4 separate regions of the Homo sapiens genome follow, and all the other regions are linked to region 1. The links come from fine-mapping of genetic effects on gene expression. A gene starts in region 1. Each other region holds a variant in brackets. All regions are shown on one strand. Distances are from middle to middle.

Region 1 (4,000 bases):
CACCTGAATAATTGCACTAGCTAATACTTATTGAGTACTTCCTATGTGTCAGGTATTCAATTGTCCTCTTAAATTTAAGTCTCGCAATAACCCAATAATGAAGAGGAAATTGAGGCTTGTAGGAGTCGTCATCCACAAGGACTCATAGCTGATAAGGGGTGGTGAGTTTTAGATAGCTTAACTCCAGAACACATATGCTTGTCATTCCTCTGCGATACTGAATACAAATCATTCTTATAGTCCAGGGAGGAGGGGTTAAAAGGTCACGAACTAGGAGCTCTACTGAGTCTGACACTGGAGATGCTAGGAGTAAGGAAAATATAATAAGTCTTGAGGAAGCTGGAGATGAGAGATTATAAAGTAAAAGTAGCTGAAGATACAGGATATAAGATTTTTTTTTTTAAAAATTTCTTTTTCCTTTTAAAAACGTTAGTTAAGCATGCATTGCGCTAGGCATTGGGGATAGAAAAGCAATAAAGACAATTTCAGTCTAGTGAGAAAGATAGGTAAATACATTATAATAAATTTTAAAACTTAGATTTGTATGCAAGGTTCACAGAACATTAGAGAAATTAGACATAGACAGAATTTATTAATTCATTTTATTCATTCAGAAGACATTAGTTGAATACCCACTGCATTATGCTTGAAGCTGGAGAAATAAAAAGGGCAAAGTTAAAATCCTTATCCTGAGGAAACTCACAATCTAATGAAGATGCTTCTGGGGTGCTGGTCAAGTAGCAAGGATGGAGCTACAGGAGCACAGAAGGATTACACAGCCTCGAGTGCTCAGACAATGCCAATTTAGTGTTACCTAAGCAAAAAGTTAGGGCTTTGGGTTGGCAACAGTAGAGGATGCTAAAGAGGAGTGCAGTGGACAGGTCCAAAGGGCTTGGACTTAACTATGACAACCCAAATTGTTGCTGGTGGAATGCAATACAAGGGAATATGCATTTTCCTGCAGCATCAGTTTTGTTATGATGTGGAGCATAAAATCGTGCTTTTCACTATTAAATATTTTTACTATTAAAAATAATGTAGAGCACAAAATCGTGCTTTTTACTATTTAAATGCGGATATACTGTGAAGAATGCAATAGCATATGAGATTCATAAAATACGACAGGAAACGAATTTCCACAGCTAGGCTTATGATTTAGCCAGATAGAACAGGAAACTACAAGAAAATCCCACAGCTGGGCATGCAGATGGCTTCGGCTCTCACCCCTGAAGACTCGGGGGGAGGAGTTCACAGTCTTCAGTTCTCCGAGTATTGAGGGTAAGATAGCTGAGGAACAATGAGTATTAAGTGTGCGAGAAAAGCGTTTAGGAGTTAAGCACATGGACTGAAGAGAGGCTAGGGCGCAGGCGACTGGGAACCCGTCATCGTCCCTCTGCTCTCCGGACCTCTTATTCGAAAAACATCCTCCACCACGTGCCCCTTTGTCGCCAGAGACAGCGCCTGCAGTGCGTGAGCTGCCCCCTGAACTCCTGGCGCCTGGTTGCCTGGGCAACCCTCTTCTGGGGCGCCTCCGCGACCTCTTACCATTGGTTTAGACGACGCAGCGTGCGTCTGACGTCATTGCGCGGCGCGACCAGGTTCAGGGGCGGGCCGCGCGGAGCCTCATTTCCCCAAACGCAGGCGCTCGGTGGCGGTAGCCGCGGTTGTTGGCCGACCGAGTGCCGGTCATAAGCCCCCCCCGGTGGGGGGCAGCTGGTGTGCGGATCGCGGCGGGAGAGAGGCGCGGTAGGAACGGGTCCCCGGAGCCGTGAACCGCGGGTACAGGTGTCCTGTCTGCGCTCTCTGCCAAGCCGGCTTGCTTCCTGATCTGTTGCTAGGGCCGCTGGACCCCGTTGCTAAGGACCCTTGAGATCGTGAGCGCTTGGAGTGTACCCCTCCTTTCCTGGGGTAGAGGGTCAGTCGAGAGTAGCCTTCGTTAACCTTAATTGAAACTGGTAAACTCCTCCCTCGGCCCCTTTAAAAAATCTCTGTTTTTTCTTTATTTTTTTTCTGTGTCTTCCTCTTTTGCTGACTTTGATAGCATCCTGGCTCTGGACTGGTCTTTAAGTATCTAGAAGTGAGTGTAGGAGGGGTGGCTGGGAAGGTGGAAAATAGATTCTAAGACCCCTAAGCAGATTGTGCGACCCTAATACTGGCCCTTTGAATTTACTTTCTGGTAAAAAAGGGACTGGGATAAGTGACTATTGGGCTCTGGGTCTTTTAGAATTTGACAGAGCTTTACAAATGGAACATGGTTTCTTTAGTGGGGCTCTTACTTACACGTTTGGAACTTTCTAGACCTGGATTAGAAAGCAGGGCTCTGCTGACTGAGAATTGTTTTAGTTCAGTGGTCTTAAAGCTGAGTACGGGAGAAAGTACATACAGGGAAAGAAATAGGCTATATCAGCTGCCCAAACAATGATAGAAAGTACACTTTCCTACCATTGACACAGATACCGGCAGTCCCTTGTAGATAGATGACCTGTAGCAACCAAGGAAGCTTTAAGGGGAATGTGTGGGCTTCATAGGGTGGTTTGTTTGCTTTCTGATATTGTGACATAGTTTAGGTGTTCGAAGTTAAGTGGATTTATGGATTCTAATATCTATAATTAGAATGTTTATCTTGTTTTGTAAAAGAATGAGCGGTGACCTTGATAATATTTGTAACACAAAATAGTTCTTACAGGTTCGCTTCTCCCCATCACTGCCCCTTTACACCATCCTCTACATGTTATTTAATGAAAAACCACTTGAAAGGGTTACCAAGGATAAGATTTTTAAAGCTTGCTTTCACAAACAACTCATGCTCCAGGCTTGTCAGTGGCATGCTTCCAGGTGGATATTATTTTAAAAAATTGACTACATTTCCCGTCGTCCCTTGGTGTCCGTGGAGAATTGGCTCCAGGACTCCCTCCCTCCCCCCAGTCTCTTTCAGATACCCAAATCCACCCATGCCAAAGTCCTCCAGTCTGCTCTCCGTATCCGTGGTTGGGTCAAATCTATAGATGTGGAACCCGCATATACGGAGAGCCAACTGTAATTTGTCGTTAAGGTAAAGGATAAAAATTTTAAGTGAAAAAGCAATTGTTTTGGAAGGAAATTCTCTAATACAGGATTTTGAAAGGGGATGTAGACGTGTTTGCATTACTGTATGTTTAATGCTGAAAATTATATATTGTACATAAAAGTTGTCCTGTATACTCATAAACTGTAGAAGCTCGATTTTCTACCATGTTTAAAACTTTTTCAAATGAGTTTTGGTGACTTTTTGAACTCATTCAAAATATAATGCAACACCTCCCCATTAGTTTGTTACAGGAACAACTTTTTGACGTGAAGGAAGATAGAAATTTAGCCATAAAATTCCATCCAAAACTTCCACTGAATTGGTAGGTAGTATTGAAAAATGTGCATCATAATTTGATATGGCTGCCTGTGCCCTTGTTATGTTTGTGGGTACGCGTCTTTGCTGTGCATCGCTTTTATCTGTTGCAGCTGTTAACAATTGATGATCAAGAGAAATTGGACCTCAGCTGGTCTTCAAATTGATGTAGCCCAAGATGTTAAGCCAGATTTTTTAAAAATGACAAAACATGTGGTTTCACTATTAGTAATAGTAATACTGAAGAACACTTTGTACCATTGTAAAGAAAATTATAATAATAGCTAAGACTCATGTGGCCCTTACTGCATGCCTCCCATTATGGAAATGTTGTTTTACATATATTCTTACTAGTCTTCATCAACACTTAAAGTAGTTCCTGTAATTATGCCCAATTATAGAGTTGAGGAAACTGATGCATTTTTTTTTTCAATAGAAACTTGTGTTGTTCCCCCTCCAGGAGCTTCTCAAAACAGAAGTCAGGCACAATATTAAATACTTGTTGAATGATCACAGAAGTACAATAGTAGGTTAACATATTTAAAGCTTCTCTCAGCTTATTTTAGACTATTATCTGACAACTTTAATGAGATTTTAATTACCGTAGTATTAGAAAAT
Region 2 (4,846 bases), 120 kb before region 1:
ACCCACTACCACACCTGGCTAATTTTTGTATTTTTAGTAGAGACGGGGTTTCACCATCTTGGCCAGGCTTGTCTCAAACTCCTGACCTCAGGTGATCTGCTCGCCTTGGCCTCCCAAAGTGCTGGGATTACAGGCGTGAGCCACTGTGCCCAGCCAGAGTGCTCTTTTCAAAGTGCAGATGTCATCTGGCCATGCCCCGACTCAAAACCTTTCAGTGGGAGCCTATTATTCATAGAATGAAGACCTTCGACCCTGTGGCCCAGCCAGCCTCTGGGGCTCCTCTGGCACCATGTTTTCCCGGGCTCACTCCCCATCTCTTAGGGCTCCTGTTCTTCATGCTGCCTCCTGCAGAAGCCTCTGTCAGAGCTCTTCATTCTCCACTTCACCCTTGCCTCTGAGTCTCACCTCTTCAGAAGAATCTCTCCTGTCCTTCTTCAGAGGAAACAGTCCCTTTCTAGGGCCCCATAAAATGTTCCTGCTTAGCATTCAGCACAGAGGCAATTTTATGCATATAGTAGTCCCCTCGTTATCTGCGGGTGATACGTTCCAAGACCCTCAGTAGATGCCTGAAACCACAAATAGTACTGAAGCCAGTTGCTATCAATCAGAACATGTTTCTGTTCATGTCTTTCAACCCACACACTGAATCCCTCTTCATCCCAAGTAAGCCCTTAGCATGCATGGTGGCTGTAACTTTTGCAGTTTGAGGTATGACAGCAAAACTAGTATGAATTTCTTTTTCCCTTGTTCACAACTTTGCAGAGATAGGAGATTCATTTTTGCGGTAGATCTTAGCATCCTCAGTGTACAATTTTTCTCTCTTTCCTTATTAAGTTAAGAACTTTTACCTTTTCACTTAAAGGAAGCACTTGACAGTTTCTCTTGGGCTTGTCCAAATTACCAACATCACTACTCTTGCACTTTGGGGCCATTATTAAGTAAAATAAGGTTTCCTTGAACAGGATGACTGTGATACCACGACAACAGATTTGATAACTGAGATGGCTCATAAGTGACTGATGGGCAGGAGGCTTCTTCAGCCAGATACCCTGGATAGAGATAATTTACGTGCTGGGTGTGATGGAGCAGAATGGAACAAGATTTCACCAAGCTACTCAGAACTCATGCAATTCAAGACTTACGAATTGTTTATTTCTGGAATTTTCCATTTAATATGTTTTGGCCGCTGTTAACAGTGGGGAACTGAAACCACAGAAAACAAAACTGCCGATAAAGGGGGACTACTTTACTTGGGAAATTACTGAATTAATATCTTTCTCCTCCTCCTCTCATACATAAACTCTGTGGAAATAGGAATAGTTTGTTGTTGTTGTTGTTGTTGTTTACCATTATACTTCTAGCATTGGTAGAGGTCCCCATTCATAGTTGGGACTCAAAATATATGGTGATGTTAAAAATCTGATTTGCTGTTTTAATTATTTGAAAAAGCTATAGGCAGATCATTCTGTAAGTATCAGGGAAGAGCTTTGTAGAATAGTTCTAAAACTATTTCAGTAAGTATGGTAACAAATTTAAACACAAAGATAACAAGATACTAGGAAGGAAGTAGAAATGAAGGCAATAGGAAGGGCCCCTTTGTGTTAAACAAGGAAGGAGCATTAAAAACAGTTAGGTTCAGGCCGGGCACAGTGGCTCACGCCTGTAATCCCAAGACTTTGGGAGGCTGAGGTGGGTGGATCACAGGGTCAAGAGATGAGACCATCCTGGCCAACATGGTGACACCTCATCTCTACTAAAAGTACAAAATTTAGCTGGGCATGGTGGTGCGCACCTGTAGTCCCAGCTACTGGGGAGGCTGAGACAGGAGAATCGTTTGAACCCAGGAGGCAGAGGTTGCAGTGAGCCAAGATCATGCCACTGCACTCCAGCCTGGGCGACAGAATGAGACTCCATCACAAAAATAATAATAATAATAATAAAAATAAAATAAAAATAAAAAAGTTAGGTTCATAGATCTAAAATGAAGCAGAAGGTAAGGCCAAACTCCAGGTATTATTTCTCATAAAAACCATCAAAGTGCATTGAGGTTTCTTCCTCAGTGCAATAATACTCACAATATCAGTACCACAGGGGGCTCTGAACATATGCTGGCACTTTATTTTTACCGCTGAATGAAGTAATGTTATTTTGTACAGCTAAGTGTGATACTCCCTCTGGTAACTTGCTGTCTGCATGATCCATATCTTCAGAAGCATTTTCCTTTTTATTGAAAAAAAGGGATTTTTTTAGAGCCACAGTTAACCTTACACATCTCTAATTCCAGAGCCTCAGTTTACTGATGAAGAACTGAGGCTGAGAACAATAAAATAGTTCTGCAACCAGTCAACTCTCGTATATTGCATACAAC[C/T]GTAGAAGGCCATCCTAGACAATAATACAACTAACCAAATGTCATTTTCCCCAATAAGAACAGTTACTTCCTGAGGTCTCTTTATGCTGATTCACTCTTCACTCCAGAGTATTATCAACTCTGATGATCCAGCTTTTTACTGTTCCACCTAGAAGGTGACCCATAACATTTATCATCCAAATCAGGGTAGTTATGTGAGTGCCCAGGCACACTATTGACAATTACGTTGGGACAACGGGTATAAACCAGGACGGTTGTACAAGCAAGAATGAATGGGCACATTACCACTCCATGAAATTTTTCAGAAGAAACACATTCACAGATATTCAGTAAGTAGCATTTTATCTCCCCTTCAAGAGTGAGTCTGAAAAATCATTCCCATTTAGAAGAGTGGGTATCACTTTTGGCATGCTCTTTCACAAGTTGTAATAGTGTTACTGTAGAACTTGGTCATTTCTTGTCCTGTTGTGTCCCATATATAACCGACAGACAAAATCAGGAAGAGGTGATCTAAGAAACAGATAAAACTCTATACCTGTAATCCCAGCACTTTGGGAGGCCAAGGTGGGAGGATCAGTTGAGGTCAGGAGTTTGAGACCAGCATGCCCAACATGGTGAAACCCCGTCTCTACTTAAAATACAAAAATTAGCTGGGCATGGTGGCATGTGCCTGTAATCCCAGCTACTCAGGAGGCTGAGGCAGGAGAATCACTTGAGCCTGGGAGGCAGAGGTTACAGTGAGCCAAGATCACGACACTGCACTCCAGCCTGACTGACAGAGCAAGACTCTATCTCAAAAAAAACAAAAAACAAAAAACAACAAAAAAAAACAACCTCTATGTCAAAAAGATTCCTCTGTTTACAACATGTAGCACTTTTTCTTAAGAAAGTTCTGGCATTCGCAGATATTGGTTACCAGCAATATTTATTACCAGTTACAGTAGATCATTTACTAACCTCTCTTATCCTGAAGAGGTAACCATAGACCCCTTGATGGACCACTCTTTGTTTTCTCGCCAAAACATACACAACCAACATATATACGTACACTCAGAATGCTTCAACCTCTTATCAACAAGAGATGAAAACTAGAATCATAAGGAAAATTAATTTGCTCATCTGATCAAAAGTGAAATCACAAATGCCAGGCAATGACTGTGTTCCACACTATTGGGAAATTTTAAGGGCCCATGGCTGAAAATAAATAAATAGGATTTCCTGGGATTTAGAGGAATGGGTTGAAGCCAGATCATGGAGTCAAGGCTTGCCTAGGCTCCTATCTCTTGAGAGGCTCATAGACACCAACATTTAACCTATATTCAACCACATTGCCCCAAACCACTCCAATGGATTGACTTATCTTTCTTGATGTCAGTTTAAACGTATTAAGACCTGCTTATAGGGTAATCATTTACAACACTAACTCTGTATAGTCGAATAAAGAATATTTCCAGTTTTCCTTTCTGTCACCTCACACTTTATCATCTCTGAAAGGGAGGCAGCCATTGATAATATTATCTCAGGACCTGAGCCATCACAAAAGCAAACTCAATTCCCCTATTTTTTATTATTTTTCCACTAACTCAGTACTAGCTCTGACTACACTTAAAATAAAAACCAAGTAAAAATGGCATCATGTCCTCACAATACTATGAGGTTTGGGGGAACTTTTCAATATTGGTAACTAAAAATACATTAGCTGACTAATGTTAGTCATTTTATCTCTATTCTTCCTGGAAAACCAGTGCAGCTTTTAGCTGTCTAATTTCCTCTTACTGGTTGAGAAGTAGACATGCAGGCCAGTATTCATCTAAGGAGCTTGCTAAGTTTCCCTTCTTATATTGAGCTCCTGAATCTCGCCACTGTTGCACTCTTTTGAAAGCGGTCCTTCCCTCAAGTATAGCAGAATCCAATATAATTAAGGAAAATTAAAGAAACAGTCCAATGAAAACATTCATGTTAATATTTAGTCAGGGAAAATTCACAGTAATGTTTAAAGAGAATAGCATAAGCTATGTTATTACTAATCATGAGTGAGTAATTAAGCAAAAAATTACACTAATCTCTAAAGGCTAGAATGAAATCTGAGTTGATTACAGGTCAACAAGATAGAGCTCTTGCCTTAAAAAGCATGATTCCTCCTTTTAATGACTATTATTTGAGTATGTCAGCATACCACACTCTGGAAAAAACACAAAAGCAAATGTGGCAAGAATTCTACTCTTAGTGATTTTACAGTCGAGAAAAGAGAGTCAGATAAACACCAGTAATATAAAATGCACACATAACAGTGCAACCCTAAAACCTTACCTTATATGCTTGTAATGAATATTAAGTGACTGCATATTTATACAGTGTTTAAAACTGTTTAGCATACAGTAGTAAGCATGATATAAATGCTCATTAAGTACATAAACAAATATATACCATGTATATGTCATAAGATAGGCATAGTCAAACACAATATAAAATTAGAGA
Region 3 (4,846 bases), 78 kb before region 1:
GCCACTCTTAGGCCAGGGTTGGTAACATGAAGGTGTACTATCCAGGACAGAGAAACAACATTGTCTGGGAGGAATAATCCTCATCAACCATGATAAGATTTTGTCTTTGTTTCCCTGTAAACAAACAAACAAACAAAAAACCATGCACACACACACACACATACACACTCGGTCTCTCTCACAGACACAGACATCCAACTATTTATTCATTCTTGTTTAAAATGTCTAAATTGTAATTATAGAGACAATTGTATAGCTATTGTAAATTATTTATTCCCATTGATTACTTCTTTTTTCCAAGGGGTTTAAATCATTCATTAAACAAAGAAACATCTGTGACGATGACGTGATTTAGATTTGTGTTTACAGACATGTATTATCCATATAGCCACTGTTTTTTGAGTGCTTCTTATATGCCAGGTACTATGCTCAGGGTTTTCTATGAAATATCTCATTAATGTATATAAAACCATGAGATTATTGCACTTTCTGCTTTATACATGCATACAGGGCTCATAAACAGAGGAGCTGGATCCACCTCAGTCAGGTGTTCCAGACCACATTGTCTGTAATTAGGGCAACAGCTTAGTAACTACTACCTCTACTTGGGGACTTTCAAGCCTTGGAGCCTTATTCCACAGCCCAATAATTTTTCCTTCTTGATTATGTAGTTTTAAGTAATCCAGACTAGAGACTTTACATTTGCTATTTCATTTTTTAAGGAAAACAAAAGTGAAACCTTCATAGCTTCCAGACTGTGTTTTTTCTCCTTCCTGCTTATAAAGACACAAAATAAAATGACGGCTGTCTGAGATATGAGCTGAATTAGCAAGTTTCTTAGGGGATTGTTTGCCTTGAGATGTCACTGTCTCCTGTGCATGCACCCTTTAAAAATAAATCCAATAGCCAAGTAATTACTAACAAACAAGATAAATTTAGGGTAATTATTCATATTATAAAAGGTTCCTTACTTAGAAGGTCTTGCCAATAGGATTACTTTAAATAGGAAACTATTCCAGAGCATATCCAACAGAACTCTATGCATTAAAAACAAAAAAAAAATCATGCATTTTAGAATCAAAGCTATACATGGAATAATGTGCATTGTAATATGAAATGATAAAGTGGCTAAACATCTCTAATGTATTTTAATTTAAATTCTCACATGAATGAGGCACCATCAGGAAATGCCATAGGGGTCTGACATGTGTTTGATTTAAAATGTGTTCATTGAATAACAACCATCTCAGTCATCTTTGGAATTTGTTTTCACTACAGATTTTCTGAAATTATTTCTAAGCAATATAGATGAACCCCTATTTTTAAATTGCTCTGAGAGTTTTCTTTTTTGGGTGATTTGCTTTGTCAGCAGCAATTCTTTCTGGAGAAATGATCAAAAGACTGTTGAAATTGATTCAGTCCTTAAAGACCTCAAGCTTTATGGTGTCATCTACCTCATGGAGTGACCATTATTTCAAAAATAACATTCACAAGAAAGGAAGCTATACAAGGATAGGAAGCTTCATACAAAGTTTTACATACTTATCTTCATTTTTATTCCTATGTATTCAAAAATCAGTTAACAACACATCTATATTTCCTATCTCCTATCATGTGCAAGAAGCTACACTAAACTTTTGATATACAGTTTCACATGAAACAGACATCACTTCAGCCATTTTAGAGCTTACACTCTATGCAGTTGGGGTTGAAGTTGAAGTGGATAATAGATATTATACAAATGGTCACACTGATACATAATTCCAGATTGTGATAAGCATCCTGAAGGAAGTTATGTGATATTAGAAGAAAGAATAGCAGAGGAATCCAATCAAATAAGTGTAAGGAGGTTTGGGAATGC[C/T]TCTCTGAGGAAGTGACATTTAAACCAAGTCATGAAGGATCAAATAGAGTCTAGGATGGAGGCAGATGGAAGCTTGTGTAAGGATAGGGGTTGGGAGTTCACGCAGAGAGAGCAGCCTGTGTGTAGGCCAGAGGAGGAAAATAACTCATGTGGTCAAGGAAACAAAAGAACTTAGTGTGGCTGCTGTGAGGTATACAATTGCTTCTTGTGTGTAACACAACAGTGACCATTTTCAGGATTTCTTAATTCACCATATAGTCCATATTTTTCTTCTGAGCATCTGTTTGCAGTGAGGTCTCAAAACATCAACAAGAAGGGATTTCCATTTTAAAATAGCAGCTATTTGGCTGTGCCTAATGTAGCTCCTCTAAACTTCCAAATGAAATATCTCTGAGGATATGGAAAATAGAAATACTTGAAGTAGCACTGAAAATTAAGAATAGTAGTGAATATTCATGAACTGAGGGCTGATAAAGCTGGATTGAAAAAAAACAACCGCTGGCCAATGCATGCTTTGAATCTCATGTGCATTTTTCCTGCCCTGTTCATACCAAGACCAGAGACTTGGGAAATGAATCAACTGGAAACGTAGCAGAAAATATCTGTTCATTAGGTGTCAATTAAAATCTGAGTTTTAGTGACATCATGGTGACTGCATTGGGCTGGGAAACCCTAGCCTTCTGACCTCCAACCCACCCTCTGCTCTGTTGAGTGAAAACAATGTATTCCTCTAGATTATTTGAAAACATATCTCTAACTCCCACTGTAAGATAAAATCCAAACTCTTTAGTTTGGTATTCCAGATTACTCACATAGTGGTCTCAAATCGGCCTTCAGTATGTGCTCTTAGATTGACAAATGCTAGGGAGGGATATTGGAAAGCAATTTCTGGGCTGGAATGGCCACCTTGTGGATATGAGATTCATCCACATACAGGTGGTAGTTGAAGCTAAGAAAACGGGCAAGCTAAATTAGAAACACAACAGAATGAACTTAACCAGAAAACTAACCCCACTTTAGATGATCCATTTCTGGAATGAAGCAGTCCCAGAATAGAGAGAAAGAAAGGGGAAGAAAGAAAGAAAGCAATGAGGTAGTCACTGGCTAGTCGTGGGTAAGGAATAATAGACTGTTCTCTTAATAAGTCTGATAACAAAAGAAGAAGAGGGAATGGCAGCTGGAAAAGTTGGTGAGGTCACAGGGTTGTCATTCAATGAATCAATAAGTATTGGTTTATCACCTATAGTAACAGCTTGTAAAGAAGTGGGGCAAGCACTTGAGGTATACTCTGGGGACCATCCTGAGAACCAGGCTGGAAGAGCAAGACCAACCTAAGTCATCCCTTACATAAGCTTGTTGATCAGTGGATGTAAAAAGCAGAAGCCAGATACAGTGAGGTTGAGGAAACAGGATGCCTGAGAGTAAGAAGTCACAAAATCACTCAGAGTGAAGAGAGCAATGTATATGCAAGAATTCTTTACCAAATGGAGTTCTCCATTGCCTTCCTCCTCTTCCCCTCACAAAGGGGATACAGCATTTCAAGGGCTTTGTCCAGAGATATTAAATTCAGCTGAGCAGAGGCATCACCATCGGCATTGGGAATTAGCTTTGTCATTGTGTCAATAAGTGGCCAGCTGAATTTAGATTCAAAAGAGAATCAAAAATTAAAAAGCACACACAAGAAAACAGGGAGTGTAAGAAACAGCCACAGAGACGATTGTCTAGAAAATCTGCTATGATTAATCTAACTCTCCCTTCTTGAAGTGGCTAGAATTATTTTCATTGTTTTTTTCACATAGATGGTTGCAGAGAGATTAAGTGACTTGCCCAAGGTCGCACAATCCAGGTCTCCTGACTCCAGCCATAATGCAATATTGATTTCACTGGAATTGAAAGGCAAACTCTATCAACAACCCCGTGAGATAATGCTGGAGGAGTAAGTATTTCTCAAGGGGAGTTATTTTGGTTTGAAAAAATGCCCATGAATAGCACTCACTTTCCCAATAAAAATGCATTTTTTAAATATCTCCCACTGGGTAAAGGAAAATAAATAGTGCTTTTTAGTGAAATTTGCTTCCAAAAAATGAAAACGGAGGGATGGGAATGTACATGGTTGCTTCAGTATTTTTGGTCATTTTTCTGGTCAGATATGCCTTGATTGAGTGGGCTGACCTGGAGCAATTGAATTCCATTGCTAAGATAGTCACAAGGACAGGACCAAACATGCCGTAGTCCAGTTATATCAGCTGCAAAGTCACATTCTTGGACTCAATCCAGCTCACAGATATTCTTTGTAAGGAAAAAAGAGACAAAGATAAAAAAAAAAAAAGCTATAGAGGAATTTCTATTTGAATGAGCATGTTTGATAATGTCCCTTAACCATAATCTCAGGGGCCTGTGTTATCTCAGAAAGGAGAAAGATGAACATCTTTGAATTGCCTAATCTTGCACTTGCTTGATCCTGCTTGCTCTCTGCTCACAATATTACCATTCAATTACCTCTACCACTTTCAATTACATCTTACCTTCAATTACATCTCTACATTGATTTTTTTCTTCCTATTATTTCTGCGTTAGCCACAATTCTCCTCTGATGTTTGTCAACTCTTTTTCAGAGCTCTGAATGAGCAGGAACACATTTCTGAATGACACGTACAATACCCTGTTTGATTGGGAAATAAATCACTTATCATTTGGCAAAAAAGCACCTGCTGGTCTAACAGTTCAGTAAAGGAAGTAGAAATCATTATATCTCTGTTTCCTCATTTAAACTTGTTTTCCTTTTTTCCCTTTTCTTGTAAATGCTTCCATATTTTAGAAAATTGACACACAATTGTACCAATAGAAAAGACAGTTTGAGAATGAGGAAGTGCAGTATAGCAATTCACATCCTGCTCTTTCCCAACTGAGCACACCCAGGAGGCACGAGACCCAGGCAGCGCAGCGGAGTCAAACCTAGGGCTGATCCTCTAGACCCTGATGTAT
Region 4 (4,846 bases), 44 kb after region 1:
TCAGCAGCCCTTCATGCTAAAAACTCTCAATAAACTAGGTATTAATGGGACGTATCTCAAAATAAGAGCTATTTATGGCAAACCCACAGCCAATATCATACTGAATGGGCAAAAACTGGACTCATTCCCTTTGAAAACTGGCACAAGACAGGGATGCCCTCTCTCACCACTCCTATTCAACATAGTGTTGGAAGTTCTGGCCAGGGCAATCAGGCAGGAGAAGGAAATAAAGGGTATTCAATTAGGGAAAGAAGAAGTCAAATTTTCCCTGTTTGCGGATGACATGATTGTATATTTAGAAAACCCTGTCGTCTCAGCCCAAAATCTCCTTAAACTGATAAGCAACTTAAGCGAAGTCTCAGGGTACAAAAATCAATGTGCAAAAATCACAGGCATTCCTATACACCAATAATAGACAAACAGAGCCAAATCATGAGTGAACTCCCATTCACAATTGCTTCAAAGATAATAAAATACCTAGGAATCCAACTTATATGGGATGTGAAGGACCCTTATAAGGGTGTGAAGGACCCTTATAAGGGTGTGAAGGACCCTTATAAGTTCACCCTTATGTGAACTACGAACCACTGCTCAATGAAATAAAAGAGGACACAAACAAATGGAAGAACATTCCATGTTCATGGATAGGAAGAATCCATATCGTGAACATGGCCATACTGCCCAAGGTGTAATTTATAGATTCAGTGCCATCCCCATCAAGCTACCAATGACTTTCTTCACAAAATTGGAAAAAACTACTTTAAAGTTCATATGGAACCAAAACAGAGCCCACATTGCCAAGTCAATCCTAAGCCAAAAGAACAAAGCTGGAGACATCATGCTGCCTGACTTCAAACTATACTACAAGGCTACAGTAACCAAAACAGCATGGTACTGGTACCAAAACAGAGATATAGACCAATGGAACAGAACAGAGCCCTCGGAAATAATACCACACATCTACAACCATCTGATCTTTGACAAACCTGACAGAAACAAGCAATGGGGAAAGGATTCCCTATTTAATAAATGGTGCTGGGAAAACTGGCTAGCCATATGTAGAAAGCTGAAACTGGATCCCTTCCTTACACTTTATACAAAAATTAATTCAAGATGGATTAAAGACTTAAACATTAGACCTAAAACCATAAAAACCCTAGAAGAAAACCTAGGCAATACCATTCAGGACATAGGCATGGGCAAGGACTTCATGTCTAAAACACCAAAAGCAATGGCAACAAAAGCCAAAATTGACAAATGGGATCTAATTAAACTAAGGAACTTCTGCACAGCAAAAGAAACTACCATCAGAGTGAACAGGCAACCTACAAAATGGGAGAAAATTTTCGCAACCTACTCATCTGACAAAGGGCTAATATCCAGAATCTACAAAGAAATTAAATTTACAAGAAAAAAAAAAACCCTTCAAAAAGTGGGCAAAGGATATGAACAGACTCTTCTCAAAAGAAGACATTTATGCAGCCACCAGACACATGAAAAAATGCTCATCATCACTGGCCATCAGAGAAATGCAAATCAAAACCACAATGAGATACCATCTCACACCAGTTAGAATGACAATCATTAAGAAGTCAGGAAACAACAGATGCTGGAGAGGATGTGGAGAAATAGGAACACTTTTGCACTGTTGGTGGGACTGTAAACTAGTTCAACCATTGTGGAAGACTGGTGACTCCTCAAGGAGCTAGAACTAGAAATACCATTTGACCCAGCAATCCCATTACTGGGTATACACCCAAAGGATTATAAATCATGCTGCTTTAAAGACACATGCACATGTATGTTTATTGCGGCACTATTCACAGTAGCAAAGACTTGGTACCAACCCAAATGTCCATCAATGATAGACTGGATTAAGAAAATGTGGCACATATACTGGATTAAGAAAATATGGCACTATACAGCCATAAAAAGGATGAGTTCATGTCCTTTGTAGGGACATGGATGAAGCTGGAAACCATCACTCTCAGCAAACTATCGCAAGGACAGAAAACCAAACACCGCATGTTCTCACTCATAGGTGGGAATTGAAAAATGAGAACACTTGGACATAGGATGGAGAACATCACACACGGGGGCCTGATGAGGGGTCAGGGGGATGGGGGAGGGATAGCATTAGGAGAAATAAATAATGTAAATGACGTGTTAATGGGTGCAGCACACCAACATGGCACATGTATACATATGTAACAAACCTGCACATTTTGCACATGTACCCTAGAACTTAAAGAATAATAATAATAAAAATATAAAATAAAAATAAAGATAGCACGTTTAAGTCAAGTGTGGACTTGT[G/A]TTGTTTGCCTCCCTAGCCCTAGTAGGTCCCAAATTTCCATTTGGTGCTCCATGATGTTCTGTGGAAGTTCACTTCATCTCTGAGTCTAGTGATAGAGCCATGACCTGGGCGAAGTCAGGAAGCACATTTTATCCCTTTGGCCGGACAACTGGATTTGTGGTTGCCATTTGACTAAACCTAGTCCAGGTCTAAGAATGACTCCCCAGACTCAGACTCTTGCTAGGAATGGTAGGACAGAGATGTGCTTCTTTCCTTGCTCAACAGGAGCAATGAATCATGGAGCCAAGGAGCTTTGGCCTCTTCTTGCAGCCCTACAGGGTCCCACCCTTAGGTTGTAGCCAGCCCCATCTCTGGCCTTTTTGTTGCTGTGAACCAATGAAATTACCATTTTTTTTTGTCACTTGGTGTATCCTTTTCTAGTATTTGTGAACAAAAGTATCCTGATTCACATGGTGACATCTAATTCACATCTTCTTGAATACTGTATATCCTGAAACAATTTACATTAAAAGATAGCTATGGTCTTAGAGCACCTCTCTCTTTTTATCCTGTGGGATGATATCAGTAAAGAGTTACTCAAAACAGGAATGATATCTTTTCGTGCAAAAGAAAAATGAGAAACTTAATGTGGCTTATAAGACTTTTGCTCCGTGCTTTTCTGAGTTGTAATTGAAGTCTCAAGTAGGAAGTGACAAACTTAACAACAACTCTCAATGAGTACTTTGCACAATTACTTTACTTGTAAATGTGAAAGGAGGTTATATCTGTTCCCTAAAGTACAAAAAATGATAAAGGGGTGGAGAGGTCTGTACCGAATTCTGGTTTCCATTCTCTTATTATCAAGGCAAAAGGAGAAAGACATAGAGATTTGACTTTATAATAGCCTAGACTTGTTCAGTTGTGGATTCTGTTCATCTGCCAAACCTTTAATGAGTGCCTCAGTGCTGGCCACTATGCTGGGGACAATCCTCCTGACTCCCCTGACTCCCTGCCAATCAAAGACTGCTATGGCTTAGAATGATGCATTTGCATGTAGTTGCCTTACTGGGTAATGAGATGACCAATGTCATTATTAACTGGCTTTGTTAGAAAAATTCCCCCAACTAGTGTAAATTAGTTCAACCATTGTGGAAGACTGTGGCGATTCCTCAAGGATCTAGAACTAGAAATACCATTTGACACAGCCATCCCATTACTGGGTATATACCTAAAGGATTATAAATCATTCTACTATAAAGACACATACACATGTATATGTATTGCAGCACTATTCACAATAGCAAAGACTTGGAACCAACCCAAATGTCCATCAATAATACACTGGATAAAGAAAACGTGGCACATATACACCATGGAATACTATGCAGCCATAAAAAAGGATGAGTTCATGTCCTTTGTGGGGAATGAAGCTGGAAACCGTCATTCTCAGCAAACTATCATGAGAACAGTAAACCAAACATTGCATGTTCTCACTCATAGCTGGGAATTGAACAATGAGAACACACGGACATAGGAAGGGGAACATCACACACCAGGGCATGTCGGAGGGTGGGGGGCTAGGGGAGGGATAATATTAGCAGAAATACCTAATGTAGGTGATGAGTTGATGGGTGCAGCAAACCACCATGGCACGTGTATACCTATGTGACAAAAATGCACACTCTGCACATGTATCCCAGAACTTAAAGTATAATTAAAAAAAAAATCCCCCAACTGATAACTGCTATAGTTAACATCTAATAACTACTGAGCACATATTTGGTGCCAGACACAGAGCCAAGCCCTTTACTGACATTATGACTTTTTCATTTTTACATTATCTTATTAAGTAGCTTTGATTGCTGATGTTTTAGCAGTATGAATGCTAAGGTTAAGAAGGTTAAGTACTCAGCCTAGGGTCTCAGAGCCGCTGGGTGGCAAAATGGAGATTAGATCCCATCATACCAAATCCAGGGCCCCTCCTATCATATTTCTTCTGCCTTTCAGGTTTAAGCAAATTAAGTGGAAAACTCCCATTACCCTTTATCGTAGAATCAGATGGTCTCTCTACTGTACCTCTCAGTATGCTATTGCTATTATTCAAAATGTGTTCATTCCCTAACCATTTCTATTTTCTAGAGATTTCCCAGGTAGCTAATCAATTTAGAAAAGTAACTGCAACAGCCTAGTTTTAAATTTGATTTTCATTCAAACTTTATTAATTTAGCCATTAGTTTTCATTTAAAAGGAAAGGCATTTTACCAACATGCATATCATATATAATCATTACAACTAATTTCCCAAATTATAATCAACGTTCATTGCAATTACTGGTATTTTACATAAATATTATAAAAGCAATGTTATGCATGGTTCCATATCATTAACACCATACTAAATTTACATATAAAATTGGATATAATGTGCCCTAGGAAATTGGTGGTATATTTCTGACACATAAGTAATTTCAAGTAATGGAGTCACTAATAGTTTTTGCCTTACTCATCCTCTGGAAGCCAGCTATAAAAGTTTATATTAGGTGAACTATAT

Which allele goes with the higher level. Alleles are on the strand shown, and positions count from the first base shown. SD is a standard deviation of normalised expression in the study named. Not every link is listed here.
For the expression in liver of the gene that starts at base 1,626 in region 1, T is the low allele of the variant in region 3 and C is the other (moderate effect, 0.57 SD a copy in GTEx).

What was found. PIP is the estimated chance that this variant, and not a neighbour inherited with it, causes the effect. A credible set is the group of variants that fine-mapping cannot tell apart.
Region 2: its variant is the best candidate, but not a certain one, in a credible set for the expression of PACRGL in pancreas (GTEx, PIP 0.53).
Region 3: its variant is the best candidate, but not a certain one, in a credible set for the expression of PACRGL in liver (GTEx, PIP 0.79).
Region 4: its variant is the best candidate, but not a certain one, in a credible set for the expression of PACRGL in prefrontal cortex (BrainSeq, PIP 0.60).

What each region holds. Positions count from the first base shown.
Region 1 is chr4:20,698,833-20,702,832 of GRCh38, forward strand. PACRGL (parkin coregulated like) reads left to right here and starts at 1,626. Exons shown (of 9, transcript NM_001258345.3): 1 at 1,626-1,955. RefSeq lists an enhancer at 1,739-1,858.
Region 2 is chr4:20,581,892-20,586,737 of GRCh38, forward strand. All of the region lies in intron 29 of SLIT2 (slit guidance ligand 2), which reads left to right. Among named protein-coding and RNA genes, the nearest start is that of MIR218-1, 56 kb to the left of the region's middle. The variant C/T (reference allele first, on the strand shown) is at 2,369.
Region 3 is chr4:20,620,897-20,625,742 of GRCh38, forward strand. No RefSeq gene overlaps it. Among named protein-coding and RNA genes, the nearest start is that of PACRGL, 77 kb to the right of the region's middle. The variant C/T (reference allele first, on the strand shown) is at 1,862.
Region 4 is chr4:20,742,511-20,747,356 of GRCh38, forward strand. The region is part of intron 5 of KCNIP4 (potassium voltage-gated channel interacting protein 4); the gene reads right to left. It also overlaps a transcript of PACRGL not described here. Among named protein-coding and RNA genes, the nearest start is that of PACRGL, 44 kb to the left of the region's middle. The variant G/A (reference allele first, on the strand shown) is at 2,317.